2 separate regions of the Homo sapiens genome follow, and region 1 is linked to region 2. Evidence: fine-mapped expression QTL. Tissue or cell type: whole blood. Region 2 holds a variant in brackets; the other region holds the start of a gene. All regions are shown on one strand. Distances are from middle to middle.

Region 1 (5,433 bases), 140 kb after region 2:
CCCTCTGACTTGACCCCAGTCTTGTCAGTCCCTACTCTAGAGAGCCCACAGTCCCAGCTCCCTGAGGCCCCGCTCTTCTGGACCTGGCTGTACAGGGCTGAGTTGTGGCTTTTGATGCCACTGCCAGTTGCAGTACCAGGTTCAGGGAAGGCTGGGCCCTGGGGCTTGGGAGCAAGGAGGGGCTTTGTGCTCCGAGGGGGTGGCACAGCGTAGTCATCAGTGGCAGGGTTGTAGGGGAGCTCATAGCCCTCCTCCTTCACCCGAGCTTGGCACCACCATGCATCCTTGGGCTCCCGAGGCAGATCATAAAGGCCCTGGGGAGGGACTGGGGCCAGGCCCTCAGGTTCATCATAGATGGGATCCTCTTTGGGGTCTGTCAGCTTGGCCTTCAGCAACTGCTGCTGCGCATGCTCATACAAGTCCCAATAGAGAGGTTTCTTCCGTTGTACTCCCTCTCCTGCCTGAGCAGACGTGCTGTCCAAGGGGTCTGAGTATAGGGAGTCCTGGGAAGGGCATGGAGCAATGCGCAGGGAGTCTAAGGGCTCAGCATACAGGGCTGGGGGACTGTCGAGGAGCTCTTGGGGGCCAGGTGGGGAAGGCAACTTCCCCTCTGCCACCTCCCCTTCATGGGAGTCAGCTCTGAGAACATCGTGCCCCTGTCCGGCCTTTCCCTGGGCCTTCTGCCGGTGGATGGCAGTCTCAACTGCCTGGAAGATGTCATTTCCCTGTGCCGTCTGGAAGGTGAAGGTTCCAGGGCCTGAGGGGCAGCGGCGGCCGGCCTCGAAAGAGAACATGACCTAAGGAGGGTAGAGGGGGAAACACATTACCAGGAGCCATCAGAGGAAGTGAGTCACACGCCTGCACTAGTTAGGGTATCTACAAAGAAGAGACCACCTGCGAACAGACGCGGGGTCACCGGGTAGGCAAGAAAGGGGGATCCAAAGGTCAGAGCTTCCCACTTTCTGTCCTGCCCCACCCCTCCCACAGCTGCCCAACCCAGGAAGCCCTCCCGGACAGCCCCTGCACCTTGTCCCGGCCATAGCGACGCAACAGAGTGTAGGGCCAGGACAGGAGTGGCTCCAGTATCTGACTCTGGGCCCCCACGGTCAGGAGAGTCAGCCTTTCAGCCTCCACCCTCAGCACGTAGGAGCCATGCAGGCCACAGCGCTCGGCGGCCTCAGTCCTCTGCACCGTTACCCAGAATTGGGATCCTGGAAGGCATACACGATTAGACAGCTGCGGGGGAGGGACGGGGGCAGCAGTGGGGACCCAGAGGACTCATGAGCATAGTGTCCAAGCACTCACTCGGAAGCCAGATCTCAGGGCCTTCCTACTTCTTACTTCCCCATGGGCCCCTGGGTATCCACCCACTTCCCAAAGGCCCTCGGCCCTCCTCCTCTTCACTCCATCCCTGCCCGGGCTTCTGAGGCGTCTACCTTCCCAGGTAGGGCTGTACAAGGAGTTCTCCAGCATCTCCAGGGCAGAAAGCTTAGGTGGGTTATCGGTAGGCGCCAGAGTCCAGCTGCCTTTCTGTAGTAGAGAGCATCGAGAAACCCGTAATTTCCTCAGCGGGGAGCGGGGGTCGGTCTGAGGCAGCCCCATTTCTCTGCCTCTGTAACTGCCCCCACCCCGCATCGCCGCAGCTCCTCACCGGAAAGGCGTTTCGGCACAGCGTCTGCACCCAGGCTGCACTGGACGGCGCGTCGGCCGCCAGCAGGTGCGAGCGCTGAGCAGTGTCCAGGCGGAAGGCAGTGGCGCCGGGCTCAGGGGGGGTCTCCACGGTGACGGGGGCCACACTCACACACTCAGCCAGACGGATCACTTTGCAGTCCAGGCGGCGCGAGCTCCCTCGGCCACCCCCAGAGCTCGACCCCTTATGGTCAAAGAACTCGAGCCGCGCTACGCCGTGGGGACTGGCCGGGTAGAGCACGGCCCAGGTCTTCCTCCACCTCTAGGGAGAGAGAGAGAGTGCTCGAGAGGGAGTGGCGTGCGCAGGCGGCCCGGGTCCCGACGGGGAAGGAGGTTGCGGCGCAAGTCGATTTGGGATCTGGGGCTTCCAAACGGGGTTGGGGGCGAAGTTTCCCAAGGACGATGCCACTCCGTCTCCCCAGGACCAGAACCCCTAGACTACAGACGCTTCCCGGGAGTGTGCAAAGCAACTTCACGGGAAAGTCACAGGCTCTCCAACTCCCGGCGCCGCTCTCCAGCCCGCTGCCCACCTCTCCCTGTTTCTGGGCTCTCTCACCCACTACTAGCCCGGATAAGGTTCGGCATCCATGCGCCAGACTACCTTGGTCCCAAAGCGCTGACTCTGCAAAAAAAGCGGCCCTTCCATCACTGCTCCGTCCATGGCCCCCGGCGGTTCCTTCCGCGCTTCCTGGCCCTGCGGCGGGAGGCGGGGCGGGAGGCGGGGCCGGGTTCCCTGGAGGAGTTTCCGCCCCTCCCCGGCCCCCGCCGGCAGCCGCTGGGGGGGTCGCGGTGGGGTGAGGGAGAGGAGCGAGAAGGAATGGTGGAGACCCCCGGATTAGCCGGGAGCTGCAGCACCCCAGGCCCCTACCCGCCGTCGTGGGGGCGCGCCAGTGGCTCCACCGAAAGTCCTCGGTTTTGGCGCGAGGGCCCTGGCCTCTGGGCGTGGTGGCTGCGCGTGACGTCATATGCCCAAGGTGACGTCAGAGTGAAAGCCATGACATCACCCCGAAAGCGCCCCGGGCACCGGAGAGACCCACACGGGCCTCCGGGGCTTTATTTACCCTGGCCGGGCCCGCCCCCAGCCCCGCCCGAGCCGGGCTGTTTAGACTCCGCTGGCCCGGGACTCGGAGGGAGGGCTGGGGTTGAACCGCTTCCCGCCACCACCGGGGCCGCCCCGCCGCCCGGCCGCCGCTTGCATGTCAGCTCCCTGACCGCAGAGGCCTGGCCTCCATGCCGCGGGAAGAGAAAGCTTCATTGAACGAGCCGGGAGGGCCAGGGAGGGGGAGGGGGCGCGGCAGTGGCCAGCTCCACGGGGAGGGAGGACCCAGAGGAGGAGAGGAGGGAACTGGCCGGGAGGAATGGAAGGAGAAGGCGGAATGTGGGAGGGCTCAGGGGGATGTGGGAGGGACGAACGGAGAAGGGGGAGAGAGGGGGGTCCAGTCTCCCCTGGCCGAGCATTTTTTTTTTTTTTTGGAAGTCCTAGGACTGATCTCCAGGACCAGCACTCTTCTCCCAGCCCTTAGGGTCCTGCTCGGCCAAGGTAGGGGGAGTCACGCTAACCGCAGAGGGAATGAGTAGGGGATGGAGAGGATGTGGAGGGACCAGGGAAAACGGGTGGTGTGGGATGGAGTCGAGGGGAAGCCACCCAACTGAGAGTTTGATTCTTGTCAAAGGGCAAGTGAGACAGAGTACACGGAGGAGGCACATACCGGAGGCGGGGGCTACGGGTGTTCGAACAGGGCCGCCAGGAGCGCCCTAAGGGAGGGGGCTCCTCCGGGAGGCGCTGCCCCTGGGTCCCCAACCCAGAACAAAGCTGCCTTGTTGGATTGATTGTTTGGGTTGGGGGAAGCATGTTGACGGGGGCTTGCTGTAGAGGGGCTGTTCTCAGCCCTAGGCAGAGAAGGCCTTGGCTGAGGAGCCATAGCGCCTGGCCTCCCGTTGCCCGGTGACAGGGATGGTGGTGTTGGCAGGAGGCTGGGACAACCCTACCCCATCCCCCGCCCAGCCTTGAGGCCTGGCCCTCCTGGGCCTCTTGACCCTGCAGGGCATCTGAGAGCCTGCGTGTTGGGGAGGGCGTGCAGCAGGTTCTCCAGGCGAGCTTTGGTGCCAGCCTTCCCTGCCTGGGAATCTGCTGGGTTAGGACTCTGGGCTCCCATTCAGGGGATCTGTGATCCCAGGGCCGCCTAGGGCCCCTTACGTGCCTCTCTGCACAATCAGTACAGCTGTCTGTCCTCCCTCTGAGTAAATGGGGTCATCTGGATCCCTCCCACGTCCGCCCCTTGGCTCTTGTCAATCCCTCTCCTTCTCACCCGCGGTGTGCTTGGTTCCCCTATACTGAGTGCTTAGTTCTTTGCCTATCACTTTCTATCCGTTGTCTCTCTCCTCTGTGTCTTTCTGGTTTTCTCTCTCTCATTCCCACAGTCTCCCTTCCTCTCACATCCTGTCTGTCTGGGTCTTCCTCTCTCTCTACGTGTCTCTTGCTCAGTCTCTATCTCTTTTTATTGACCCTTCTCTGACTCTCGATCTCTCATAGTTGTCTCTTATCTCTGGGTCTCTCAGGCTGTGCCTCTATGACCTGTGCCTCAGCCCTTATTTAATGTGTTTCTCTCCCTGTCTCTTGGTCCCTGGGGCTCTTTCTCTCCTGTTGTCTCTCGCTGTCTCTGTCTTACTCAGTGTCTGTTTTTCTTTCGTGACTTCTCCCTCTCTTTCTGACTCTGGGCCCCACTCAATCTGTTTCTCTCACGCACACTTTGTCTCTGGGGCACCCAGGCCTTCCCTGCCATGCGACCTGTCAGTGTCTGGCAGTGGAGCCCCTGGGGGCTGCTGCTGTGCCTGCTGTGCAGTTCGTGCTTGGGGTCTCCGTCCCCTTCCACGGGCCCTGAGAAGAAGGCCGGGAGCCAGGGGCTTCGGTTCCGGCTGGCTGGCTTCCCCAGGAAGCCCTACGAGGGCCGCGTGGAGATACAGCGAGCTGGTGAATGGGGCACCATCTGCGATGATGACTTCACGCTGCAGGCTGCCCACATCCTCTGCCGGGAGCTGGGCTTCACAGAGGCCACAGGCTGGACCCACAGTGCCAAATATGGCCCTGGAACAGGTGAGCAATGATCCAGGCATATCCTAGATATTTCCTATGTGTGGCCAAAGTGCAGGGAAAGGGAACACGAGGATGGCACAGCCATAGGGACACACGACACCAAGAACAGCCAGCATTGAGTAAATCCATGGATGACAAACCAAGCAACATAGTTACTTCCCAGAGCTGTGTGACCTTAGGCTAGTCAGTGCTTTCTCTGAGCCTCAGATGCCCTGTATGCAAAATGACTAGATGATGTCTAAGTTCTTTTCTGCTGCAAAAGTATGATCCTACAAAGCCATCCACAAAACAGCCCAGATACAGGTGAGCCCTGTACAAATAAAGTACAGTTAGTCTCATGGGACGCTAAGAGCAGGTAAATGATATCTGGATGTCCCAAAGTCACAAGGGGTCACAGACACTGCAGCTAACAAAATCAGGTTATGGGCCAGAGCTAAAACTAACAAGGTGGTACTGTCTAAGGACAAGTATAAAATCTAGGACAAGTATGAGTGTGGGTGGTGGAGGCTTAAGAGCAGTTCCCTAGGTGAGGCCTAGGACTGTGCCCATGGTATGAACCCACAGTGGGAATGATGGACAGAAGCAGGTGCAACCTGCAGCTGATTCCCCAGTTCCCACTGGCTAGACCACCTGTGGAATTAAGTGTCATT
Region 2 (5,433 bases):
TGCTAAGGTTCTGTTTCAACAAACCTAACGAGATATCCTTTGAGGCAGGGCCCCCTGAATCTGGGTGGAGTAAAATGGCCTGACAACCAGGCTGGGAAGGACTTTTGTGACTGAGTTTACAGATACCTCTGCCTTCTAAGCAGAGGACAGAAGACAAGAATTGCTGTCTGGAAAAGGATAGCTCCCACTTACAGCCAGCTCCATGAACATCTATAAGACAATGTACCCCAACTCTATGACAGCTCCATCCCATCCCATCCCATAATATGTATCATACTTATATTTTCTTGCTTATGTGGCTCCTACAACCTCTGCTTCCTTTCTCCCCATTTAAAACCTTCTTATGAACAGATTTCTCTGACTTGCATCTAGCTTTTTCATACCTGGATTTTCCAGCTTTGTCTAGTCCCTTTGAATTCATGATTTAACTGGATTATTTCCCATAGCATCACTCTTAGACCTAGGACCTATGTTTTAGAGGGTTCTTCTTTGGGGAAATCTATGGTCCCTAAGGGATGTGCCCATCTGGAGTCCAAACTTCCTTCTGGGCCATCTTGCAGGTACCTGGGACCCTGGAATTTCCTATCCAAACAGTCCTGATCCTGATTCCAGGGCCTGGACAAGCATCTTCTCTGGGTCTGGAGAGGGGACCTTGCTGCCTGTGAGTGAACTCCCAGGCCTGAGGGGTGGCTGAGGCCAGTGCACAGGGCTTTTTGAGATGCAAGATGGAGCCAGGGCCAGGAAGAGAAGGGGGAAGACTGGGGGCTGGGATCCTCTGTTTGTACTGCTGCCCTGGCCCTGCTAATCCTAGAGGTTCCAGGTACGAAGATGAATGAGGTCCAGCCCCTGGCCCAAAGGAACATCAAGAACACAAGTAAACTAGGGATCAAAGTTGAACTAAAGATTGTTTCTTTCTTCTATCTAAAGCCTGGAGCCTGGAGAGGCCTTCAATGTGCTGCTCTCTACTCCCTCTGAATGATCTGCACCTCCCCAGCAGGAGGCAACCCCACCTCAAAGTGTTGCCCTCTCAAAATGCTCTCCAGTTCATCAAGACCCCAATCTTACAACTGGGGCTCATCTCAGAAGAGAAGAGGGTAGTAAGAGGGTGCTATCTCTTCCCTCTGTGCCTCAGCTTCTTCATCTGTCAAGCGGAAGTCATATCTGCCCCCTCACTTCTCCAGGATTACTTTGAGGATAAAATTAGAATTGATCACCTGATTGCCCAACATTCAAGGCTATTCTAAGAAACAGCCTCTCAAAGAGAAGTGCAAGAAAGAGCTAATCTGGGGTGACAGACACTGATACTCTGGACTATACATTGAGCTCTAGCCATGCCAAGTTCTTGAGTCAATGCTGGTTTTCCATGTCACCCAGCATGCCTCAGGACTAATGCCCCCAAGTATGTATTCAAGAGATGAAAGAATTTAATCTTAGTCCAAGAAGACTATAACCTGGGAAGACAGATCTCCAGCAAGGGCTAACTCTAGCTGTGGGTAGACAGGCACACTTCTACTCTGTTCATGGAAATGCAAAATGGTACAGGCCTTTGGGAAAGTATTTTGGTAATATTCGTCAAAAGTACACATGCAATTACTCTTTGACCTTGCAAATCCATTTCTGGGAATCCACAGATATACATTCTTATGAGATGACATATGTACAAAGTTAGTTATGACGCCACAGGTTGTAAGAGCAAAAGATTAGAAATAACCCCAGGGTCCATAAATAGAGATTAGTTAAATATACTATGATTCAGCCTTACAACACAATAATTTAAAACAGAACAAGGACACTTTCTATGCACTTATGTGGAAGGATCTCCTTGATATATTGTTTATGTAAAAAATAATGGAAATAAGAATGCATTTTAATATTTTAATTTTTTCTTTCTTTTCTAAAAATATTTTTTATTTCCATAGGTTTTTGGGGAACAGGTGGTATTTGGTTACATGAGTAAGTTCTTTAGTGGTGATTTGTGAGATTTTGGTGCACCCATCACCTGAGCAGTGTACACTGAACCCAACTGGTAGTTTTTTTATCCCTCACCCCCTTCCCACATTTTTATATTTGATTGTATTTTCACAAAGAAACACTAGAAGGGTACAGAA[G/T]AAATTAATAAGAGAGGCAGGGCCGGGCGCGGTGGCTCATGCCTGTAATCCCAGCACTTTGGGAGGCCGAGGTGGGTGGATCACCTGAGGTCAGGAGTTTGAGACCAGCCTGGCCAACATGATGAAACCCCGTCTCTACTAAAAGTGCAAAAAAATTAGCTGGGCATGGTGGCAGGCACCTGTAGTCCCAGCTACTTGGGAGACTGAGGCATGAGGATCGCTTGAACCTGGGCGGTGGAGGTTGCAGTAAGCCAAGATCATACCACTGCACTCCAGCCTGGGCGAAAGAGTGAGACTCCGTCTCAATTAAAAAAAAAAAAAAAAAAAAAAAAGAGGCAGGAGAGATGTTTTTCAGTATACAAACTTTTATATATATATTTTTAATCATGAATATTTTAACTTTGCAAAAAAGAAATTAATAAAGATTTTTTCAAAATCACTTCAGAATGCCTTCTAAATGGGCAAAGAGTGCTGAACTAGGTGGCAGAGGTTCAGATTTGATTTTAGGTGGGGCCCTGGCTTCCCTGAATTTGCTCAGCTGTGAGACTAGGGTGGCCCTGTATGCTCTCAGTCCCTTACAGCCTTGCTCTTCTATAAATAAGGTATTTTCCTGGATCGCACCCTGTGTTGTATTACCACTCCCTTCTGTGCCCTTTCGTTGTACAGACAGTATCAAGTTTAATGAGTATGTTTGACACCAACTTCGGGAGAATTCCCAGCATCTCACAATTCATATCTGGTTACTTCCTGCTCTTGGATTATATTTGTCAATCGTCCATGCCATGTACTTCTCTCTTAGGCTTTATTCAGAGGCTTTTAAATTTGCACTTTAACTTGGATTAGTCCTTTTAGAAAGCAATTTGGTCATATAAAAGGTAACTCATTTACTCTTTTGAAAGAGTTTAATACAGCGTCCTGTTTCTTGGGGAATTACCCTCTATATGACAAAGTCCAGTTGTTTTATTCATTGATTTGGATTTACTTCTGTTGAGGGTTGTAGGGATGAGGGAGTAGGGATAACAGAAATCCATGGGTAGAGGATATGGAAAACAAGGTGAGCCAACTGCTCTGCTACATTTGGAGAGAAAAAGGCAAGGCTGAGGACGACAAAAGTCCAGACAGGGGAGTGCTCTGTGCAGAAAAGAAGCACTGTTGTGCTCTGAGGTTGTGCAAAGGAGATCATTGTGTGAGAAGCATGGAGACAGAGCCTGAAGGTTCAAGGAGGATAGAGGAGCTCTACGAGTATAAGACACCAGCTCTGCAATTGAGTCTGCTCCCAGCTACACGGGAGGCAACTCGACTCACATCTGGCTGAGTGTCTGATGCTGTTGTGGACAGTGTTGCTATAACCTGCTGAGACACGCAGAGATCCCAGCACAACAATTTTCCTCTTTTTATTCCTTAAAAACCATTTTAGTTCAAAAACAAAATTTCAAATAATAAAAAAAATTCTCCTCCCAGCTATCACAGTCCTCAGTATCTACTAAAAGGAGTTGAAAACATATCCACAAAAACACCTGCACATGTATGTTTATAACAGCTTCATTCATAATTGCCAAAACCTGGAAGCAACCAAGATGTCCTTTAGGAGGCGAGTGGATAAATAAACTGCAGCACATCCAGACAATAGAATATTATTCAGCACTAAAAAGAAACAGGCTACATTAACCAGTCAATGTACATATTGCTTGGCAAGACTAAGCTTCAGCTTGTCCAGCATAAGTCTTGACTTACACTTCTGTATTCCCTACAGCAACTAGCCTCATGCTTTCCACCTGAAAGATGTTCCACAAGTGTTTGTTAATTTTACCTGATTGGCATCAAAATGAAGATAGCAACACAGAGCTGTTATTTAAAAGAATAAGCCAGAAGCTGAATGGTATTGTTTTTAACTATTAGGACATGTCACCACGCATCAGTCTTTCCCAACTCATTGTTAGCTGGGAATGACTGGGAATAGGAACGCTGGGGGAAAAATCCTGGATGGGTGTGGCTAATAAAGAGGATATGGCTGTGGAGCAGATAGACTTGGCTTCAAACTCTGCATTTACTACTTCCTAGCTGGGGACCTTGAGCAAACTGAGCTCTGGGTTCCTCATTTTGTAAAAAGAGTTCAAAAGGGCTCTTGGTGTGGTTGAAATGAGAGTTCGAAATAATATACTCAGAGCACCTGCCAAGGTGTCTGGCCCCAAGCTGCTCAATGTCTAACAATGATTTCATCACCTTCCTTGCTTCCATCATGTGCTGGAAAATCTAAGTGCATTAAAAAAAATGAGAGACTGAAGGATGTGAATCGCTATGAGAAAGCATGAATATCAAGAAGAAAGCATAAAAGGTATGAAAGAAGCACGCACACACACATGCACACACACGTGCAGCAATTCCAGGCTCAACTGTCTTGTCTGCAGATGTTTTATCAAACATAGGAATATATTATAGCCAAGTTGTCTAAACTCTGTTTACCTGAGTCTATCAGAGTTTATCTGTTAGTAATCTATCTCTAAAAGGCTGAAAGCTTCCTGGTTCATTCTAACACAGCAGTCCCGTTTCTGAGAATTTACTTTAAAGTATATCCACACACCTACAAAATAATGGATTTATGGGGTTGCTTACTGCAGCAGAAGACTGGAAACACCTCAAATATCTATCACTACTGGGAACTGGTTGAATAAACAAACTATGACACAACCACACAAAGGAACACTGTAGCAATAAAAAAAAAATGAGGAAACACCCTATGAACTGATAGAGGACAATTTCCTTGATTTACAGTTAAAAAGAGCAGGTATAGCACAGGTTATAAAGCATGCTACCTTTTCTGAAATATTTTCAAGGCAACAACTTCACCTTCCCGATCTGCAAAACCACTAACACAGGGATGATCTTAGGAACCAACGTGGCTTCAGCACTAGGACATTCACAGGCTAAAGGAGAAAAACTATACCATCATCTTACTGGCTGCTTATGAAGATATTTGACATAATTCAACATCCATCCTATCCTCTTAAAAGAAAAATATAAAACCCTGTTAGTGTTAGAGGTAATGCAAAGACTCCCTCTGTATTACAAACCTATTAGAAACCAAGAGGAAGTGTGAAAAACAATGGTGAAATACTAAAGGCACTGCTATAAAATCAGGTTCAAGTCAAGAATGAGTTCTGTCTGGGCCAGTTCTGGAAGTTCCAGCCAACATGCTGAAATAAGAAAGAGAAGAAAGAAACAAATGTATTATTTTCAAATGATGTGATGTTAATCAATGGAAGGTTAGTTAAAATAAGAAATATCAAGCAACAGAATCCTATGCAGGATGATGATATAGAATAAC

The links. PIP is the estimated chance that this variant, and not a neighbour inherited with it, causes the effect.
Region 1: it holds the start of DOK1, and the variant in region 2 is fine-mapped to the expression of DOK1 in whole blood (TOPMed, PIP above 0.99).

Annotation. Positions count from the first base shown.
Region 1 is chr2:74,551,672-74,557,104 of GRCh38, reverse strand. DOK1 (docking protein 1) reads right to left here and starts at 2,385. Exons shown (of 5, transcript NM_001381.5): 1 at 2,291-2,385; 2 at 1,652-1,951; 3 at 1,437-1,530; 4 at 1,027-1,211; 5 at 1-797. The coding sequence starts at 2,350. LOXL3 (lysyl oxidase like 3) reads left to right here and starts at 3,163. Exons shown (of 14, transcript NM_032603.5): 1 at 3,163-3,229; 2 at 4,459-4,783. The coding sequence starts at 4,471. RefSeq lists enhancers at 2,084-2,143, 1,768-2,285, 3,769-4,063 and silencers at 2,294-3,043, 3,769-4,063, 4,049-4,343.
Region 2 is chr2:74,693,193-74,698,625 of GRCh38, reverse strand. It overlaps a transcript of SEMA4F not described here. Among named protein-coding and RNA genes, the nearest start is that of SEMA4F, 42 kb to the right of the region's middle. The variant G/T (reference allele first, on the strand shown) is at 2,109.